Linked DNA regions of Homo sapiens: region 1 is linked to region 2. The links come from fine-mapping of genetic effects on gene expression. Tissue or cell type: putamen. Region 2 holds a variant in brackets; the other region holds the start of a gene. All regions are shown on one strand. Distances are between the middles of the regions.

Evidence for each region. PIP is the estimated chance that this variant, and not a neighbour inherited with it, causes the effect.
Region 1: NIPA1 starts here. The variant in region 2 is fine-mapped to the expression of NIPA1 in putamen (GTEx, PIP 0.98).

The regions. Positions count from the first base shown.
Region 1 is chr15:22,785,297-22,787,941 of GRCh38, reverse strand. NIPA1 (NIPA magnesium transporter 1) reads right to left here and starts at 1,298. Exons shown (of 5, transcript NM_144599.5): 1 at 1,108-1,298. The coding sequence starts at 1,285. RefSeq lists an enhancer at 251-360 and silencers at 711-840, 851-1,000, 1,071-1,430, 1,393-1,626.
Region 2 is chr15:23,164,504-23,167,345 of GRCh38, reverse strand. It overlaps the pseudogene GOLGA8DP and the pseudogene RN7SL106P. Among named protein-coding and RNA genes, the nearest start is that of GOLGA6L1, 29 kb to the right of the region's middle. The variant G/A (reference allele first, on the strand shown) is at 1,115.

The DNA.
Region 1 (2,645 bases), 380 kb after region 2:
CTATGCTTTCACTTTAAAGCTAAATTCCTTAAATTATCCATGATTTTATATTTTCATTCGAGACTGTCGGGCCCTTTATCTCTTCTCTGAAGCCAACGCCTGGCTCACTCAGAGAAAGTTTCACCTGCATTCCGCCATGTAAATTACGAGTTCACTTTCTCTCACAACCCAAGAGTCGGGGGCCACATCCTTCCCAGAGAGCTCTTAATATTCTTCTTCTAAGAGTATGGCCAAGAACCACAAGACTTTCTCAGTCCCTCTGGAAGCAATGGAAACGGACTGTTTCACAGCCTGCCATATCCTGCATTGGCAAACCGGTCCCGTCCGGGGCCTCCCAGCACAAACGACACTGACAGAGAGCTCTACCCCGCAGAGCACTACGGAGTGCGGTGCTGCGGCACATCCACCTGGGAAGTGGCCTTGGCCCGTCCAGGGCTTGGTTTTGGATCTGCCGCGCGTGTTCTCCAAACTGAAGATCACTTGTATTCATTTGGTGCAGGTCTAAGGCGCAGCGGGCTCCGTAAGAGCACCCCAGGAACGCACAGCCCTGAGAGCCCGCCCGGGTCTTCCTTTTGCACCAGCGAGGCCCCTGCGGGGGACTGGAAATCCCAGGTCTTGCTCTACCGAGCGTACCCTAGGAGCGGGCCGCGCATCGGCTGAAGCGGCGCTTCCAGGCGGGCGCTGGGCTCGAGCACCCCAGCACCGCGTCCGCAGGAGGCTCCCGGCCGCGGGTTGCGGGCCACGGCGAGGGCTGCCGGGCGGCGCGGGGCAGGTCTTGGACCGAGGGAAAAAGTCAGCCGGGGAAGCCCGCACACCAAAGCAAGCCGCTCCAGCCGCTGAGAACGGAGAAAAGCCGTGGCGTCGGCGAAGCGCCGGACGCTCAGGACGCACCTGTGATTCCTGGGCCGCTCCCGGGCCCGAGCGCCAGGACGCGGCGGCAGCCTGGGCACGCCGCGGGGAGCACCCGCCCGCGCAGCCTTCCCCCAACCTGGGCCCGGGCCCCGACCCCGTCCCCTGCCCCGACCCGGGCGCCCCCACCTGCGACCGCCTTCTCCGCCGCCCGCCTCCCCCACCCGCCCGCCGCCTGCCGCCTGCCGCCCGCCCTACCTCGCCGCTTGGCACGCACGATGCCCTTCTTCTGTAGCACGAACGTGGACCCGTTCACCAGGCTCGACACGACGGCCACGCCCAGGCCGAGCGACACGGCGGCGGGGCTCGGGCTACGCGCCCCCTCCCCGGCCGCCGCCGCCGCCGCCGCCGCCGCTGCCGCAGCTGCAGTCCCCATTCCGCCCGCGCCCGCCCTCCGAGCCTGCGCCTGCGCGCCGCGCCCCGCGGGGCGGGATGGGGGGTGACCGGGAGGCGCGGGCGGGGGAGGGGAGGGGGACGGGTGGGGGAGGAGCAGGAAGAGGGGCGGGGGCGGGACGGGGGTGCCAGGGACCGGCGCCTTAGGCTGCGGGGACAGCAGTGGCGCCGGACGCGGCGGCAGTGAGGGGCCGGTGAGGCGCTGGGTGGGGCGGGGGTTCCCGGATTTCGCAAATGGAAATGCAGGACTCCTGGTTAAGTTTCCAGCGCGGAGAAACACGCATACTTTCTGAGTGGTGTCCTCTGCAATATCCGGGCAGCGGAGCGCGGCAGGACGCACCGGCGGGCAGCGGTCCCCGAAGAGCCTCCAGCGGAGGCCGGCCCAACTCACCGGAGCGCGAAGCCCGGCGCGCCGCTGCAGAGATCGAAGGAGAGCCCTGGCGCTGGGCGTTTCTCTTCCGCCCTTGGCGCTAGAGTCAGCTACATGGGGCTCTGGGCTTGTGATCCCATAGTCTAGTTTCCTCGTTTTAATAAACTACAACAAGCCGGGCGCGGTGGCTCACGCCTGTAATCCCAGCACTTCGGGAGGCCGAGGCGGGTGGATCACAAGGTCAGGAGATCGAGACCATCCTGGCTAACACAGTGAAACCCCGTCTCTACTAAAAATACAAAAAATTAGCTGGGCGTCGTGGCGGAGGCCTGTAGTCCCAGCTACTCGGGAGGCTGAGCCAGGAGAAGGGTGTGAACCCGGGAGGCAGAGCTTGCAGTGAGCGGAGATCACACAACTGCACTCGAGCCTGGGCGACAGAGCGAGACTCCGTCTCAAAAAAAAAAAAAAAAAGAAACAACAACAAAATTACAAGCTTGAAAAATAGGAAAAAGTTATTTTATTTTTTTTGGAAAAAAATATTTTTTAAAGTGACTCAATTCCACAACCCTCACCTAATTATTAGTATTTTAGGTGTTTTCCCATAATGTATACATACTTTTACATGTTTCCAATTACAATATACGAAATTTCCTTTTTATTTAATATATATCAGTTTCTGTATCGGTACATAAATATGATTATTCTAATGACAGTATAATAATTTGTCTAACCATTCAGCCATTGTTGGGTGTTAGGTAGCTACCAGGTTGGTTTGTTTTTTTGAGACAGAGTCTCGCTCTGTCGCCCAGGCTGGAGTGCAATGGCGCGATCTCGGCTCACTGCAACCTTCCGCCTCCCGGATTCAAGCGATTCTCGGCCTCAGCCTCCGAGTATCTAGAATTACAGGCGTCCGCCACCACGCCCGGGTTAATTTTTGTATTTTGAGTAGAGACGCGGTTTCACCATCTTGGCA
Region 2 (2,842 bases):
GCTCCAGCAGCTTCACCTGGAGGGAGGGGTGCTCAGCTGTCACGCTGCTGCCAGCGCTCACCGTCACAGCCACCCCCACCCCCGCAGAGATGTTGCACACTCTACCTTCATCTCCTCCCTGTCCAGGGCCAGCCTGATGGTGTCCTCCTCCCGGTGCTGCATCTTTGGCACTGCCCCCTGGCTTTGTTATAGGGTGATAAACTTTCCTGCGGGAGGACAGGGCTCAGACGCTGGGGCCCCTCCAACAGCCCTGCAGCTCCCCCTGCCATGCCCTGGCCTCCCACTCACTGATGGCATCCCTCTCTGTAGTACTGGAAGAATCCAAGTTCTTCTTTCTCCACCAGCTCACTCAGGTCTGCCTTCTCCTCCAGGTGGTCCATAAAGCCGCTCTGGAGCCAAAATAATGGGGTCACATCTCGCCAGCGACCTGCCCTCAGGTGGCATTTTCAAGTCATGGAGAAGGCGGAGGTGAGTTCCGGCATGGGCCAGCTTCTCCATGACTTCCTGCAGGGCCCGGTGGGTCTCCCCACTCACAGACTCGCCCCCAGGCCCTGGGGCTGGGACCGCTGCCTCTGGCTCCTTCTGGGCCGAGGCCACCGGGTGAGCCAGGCGCTGGCAGCACACCCTCTGCTCTTTCACCTGCTCTTGTAACTGTGCCTGCTTCTCCTGGGCACTAGCTCCAGCGGACTTGAAAAATGCCACCTGAGGGCAAGATGTGAGCATTCTTCTAGGGGCATACACAGAAGAAATGGGGCAGAGAGGTGGAGCGCAGCCCCTTCCCTTGGGGCCCCAGAGACTGCACATGTTGGTCACAGGTGAAATGGTGTCTGACCACTGGCTCTCGGAAGGGGTGAGGGTCCAGAGAAATCAGAAGGCAGGGAAACGAAGAGCATAAAGGGGTCTTGGAGGGACCACAGAGAAAGGTGGCAAAATGGGTGCAGGGGGAGTCAGGCTCACCATGGCCTCCCTGCTCTCCAGGTCCTCTGGGACACTCGGCATGGGCCGAGGTGCCTCCTCCCCCTCACTGTCCAGATGTTCTCCTCCGTGTCCTGTGGGGGGTGGCCAGAGGGGTCTTCAGACAACTCAACAAGGGAAGTATTGTGGGCCCACCTCT[G/A]CCTCCACCCTCATTGTGTAACCCTGAGCCAGGCCCTCCCCAGAGAGGAATGAGCTGCTGTTATTTATTTTTACTTTGAAGAACCAAGATCTTGCTATACTGCCCAGGCACATTCCCACTACTGGTCGGTGCGGGAGTTCTGACCTGCTCCCTTTCTGACCTCGGCCAGTTCAGCCATCCTTAGGCAACTTGGTGGCCCCCCGCTCACAGGAGGTCACCATATTGATGCTGAACTTAGTGCAGGCACCCGGTTAGTATAATGACCAGCTGTTCTAAAGGTCTCTTCCAACTCCTCAATCCTATGCTGCTAGCAGTCCCCCCTTCCTCCTGGGGCTCTCTCCTCTTCCTCTGAGCGGTCTCCCGTACCTTCCCCAGGGAGAGCCATGAGGCTCAACTGGGCCGTTAGCTGCTGTTTCTGCTGGCTGGCAGCTTCCAGACGCTCCTAAGGGGCCAGGAAAGAGTGAGAAGGCACAGAGTTTGCCAGGTCGTCCCCCTCACGGCCCCATCCTCGGCAGCTCCCTCCCCTGGGCCTCCTGCAACTTTTGGCAGGCCATCTCGGCCACCGCTTTGCCCCAAGCTTCCTGCTGCTGCAGCTGGTTCATTAGCTGGGTCTGCTGCAGTCACTGCCTGTACAGCGCCTCCTTCTCACAGGTCAGCTGCTGATAGGCGGCCACCTGCTGCTGATAGGTGGCCACGTACTGCTGCAGGTGACCCAGGTAATGGTCTGGCTGCTGCTGCAGACTCTGAGCCTCTTGGCTCTTCAGCTCCACCTGCAGGAAGACCCTGGGTGTGAGGGCACGTGGTGGCTGGTTTCCAGATTCTGGGCCCATTAATAGGGTAGCGAGGGCACTGTGGGGCTCTGTCGCCTGCCCAGGCCCCTGGCCCCTTACTCCAGGCCTAAGTGACTGCCTCCCTTTCCTAGAACCCCATGCCTCCTTCCCCAGCCTCAAATCTCATGTCCTCTTCCCACCATTTCAACTGTAGGCCACAGAATGGTAGAAAAGTAGTGGGAGCCAACCACCATCTGCTAAATGTGCTACAGGCCTAATGCTTCCCATGTATTATCTCATTTAATCCTCAGCACCTCTGTAAGGAAAATGCTAACTTCCTTTTGAAGTTAAAGAAACAGAGACTTAGAGATGTGAAGTACTTGAATGGTGACCAGTGGAACTGAGGCTGGAATCCAGTTTTAATCTAAGGAGTCTTTTTGTTTTGTTTTGAGACAGAGTGTCACTCTGTGGCCCAGGCCGGAGTGCAGTGGTGCAATCTCAGCTCACTGCAACCTCCACCTCCTGGGCTCAAGCAATTCTCGTGCCTCAGCCTCCTGAGTAGGTGGGATTACAGGCATGCGCCACCACCATGCCCCACTAATTTTTCTTTCTTTTTTTGTTTTTTGTTTTTGTAATTTTAGTAGAGATGAGGTTTTACCATGTTGGCCAGGCTGATCTCAAACTCCAAACCTCAAGTGATTCTCCTGCCTCAGCCTCCCAAAGTGTTGGCACTATAGGCGTAAGCCACCGCGTCTGGCATAAGAAGACTGTTATACCACTCTGTCTCTTCCCCTGTGATTGGGGGTGCTCCATGTCTCTAGCTGGAATGATGATGTCCAGACCTGGGAGGAGCCCAGGGCTACCCACCTCTAAAATCAGAGGGCAGGAAGCAAGAAACAGCCACAGGACTGCCCTGGAGGGTGCTGGGGTCACCTGCCCCCGGGCTGGAGCTGCCTCT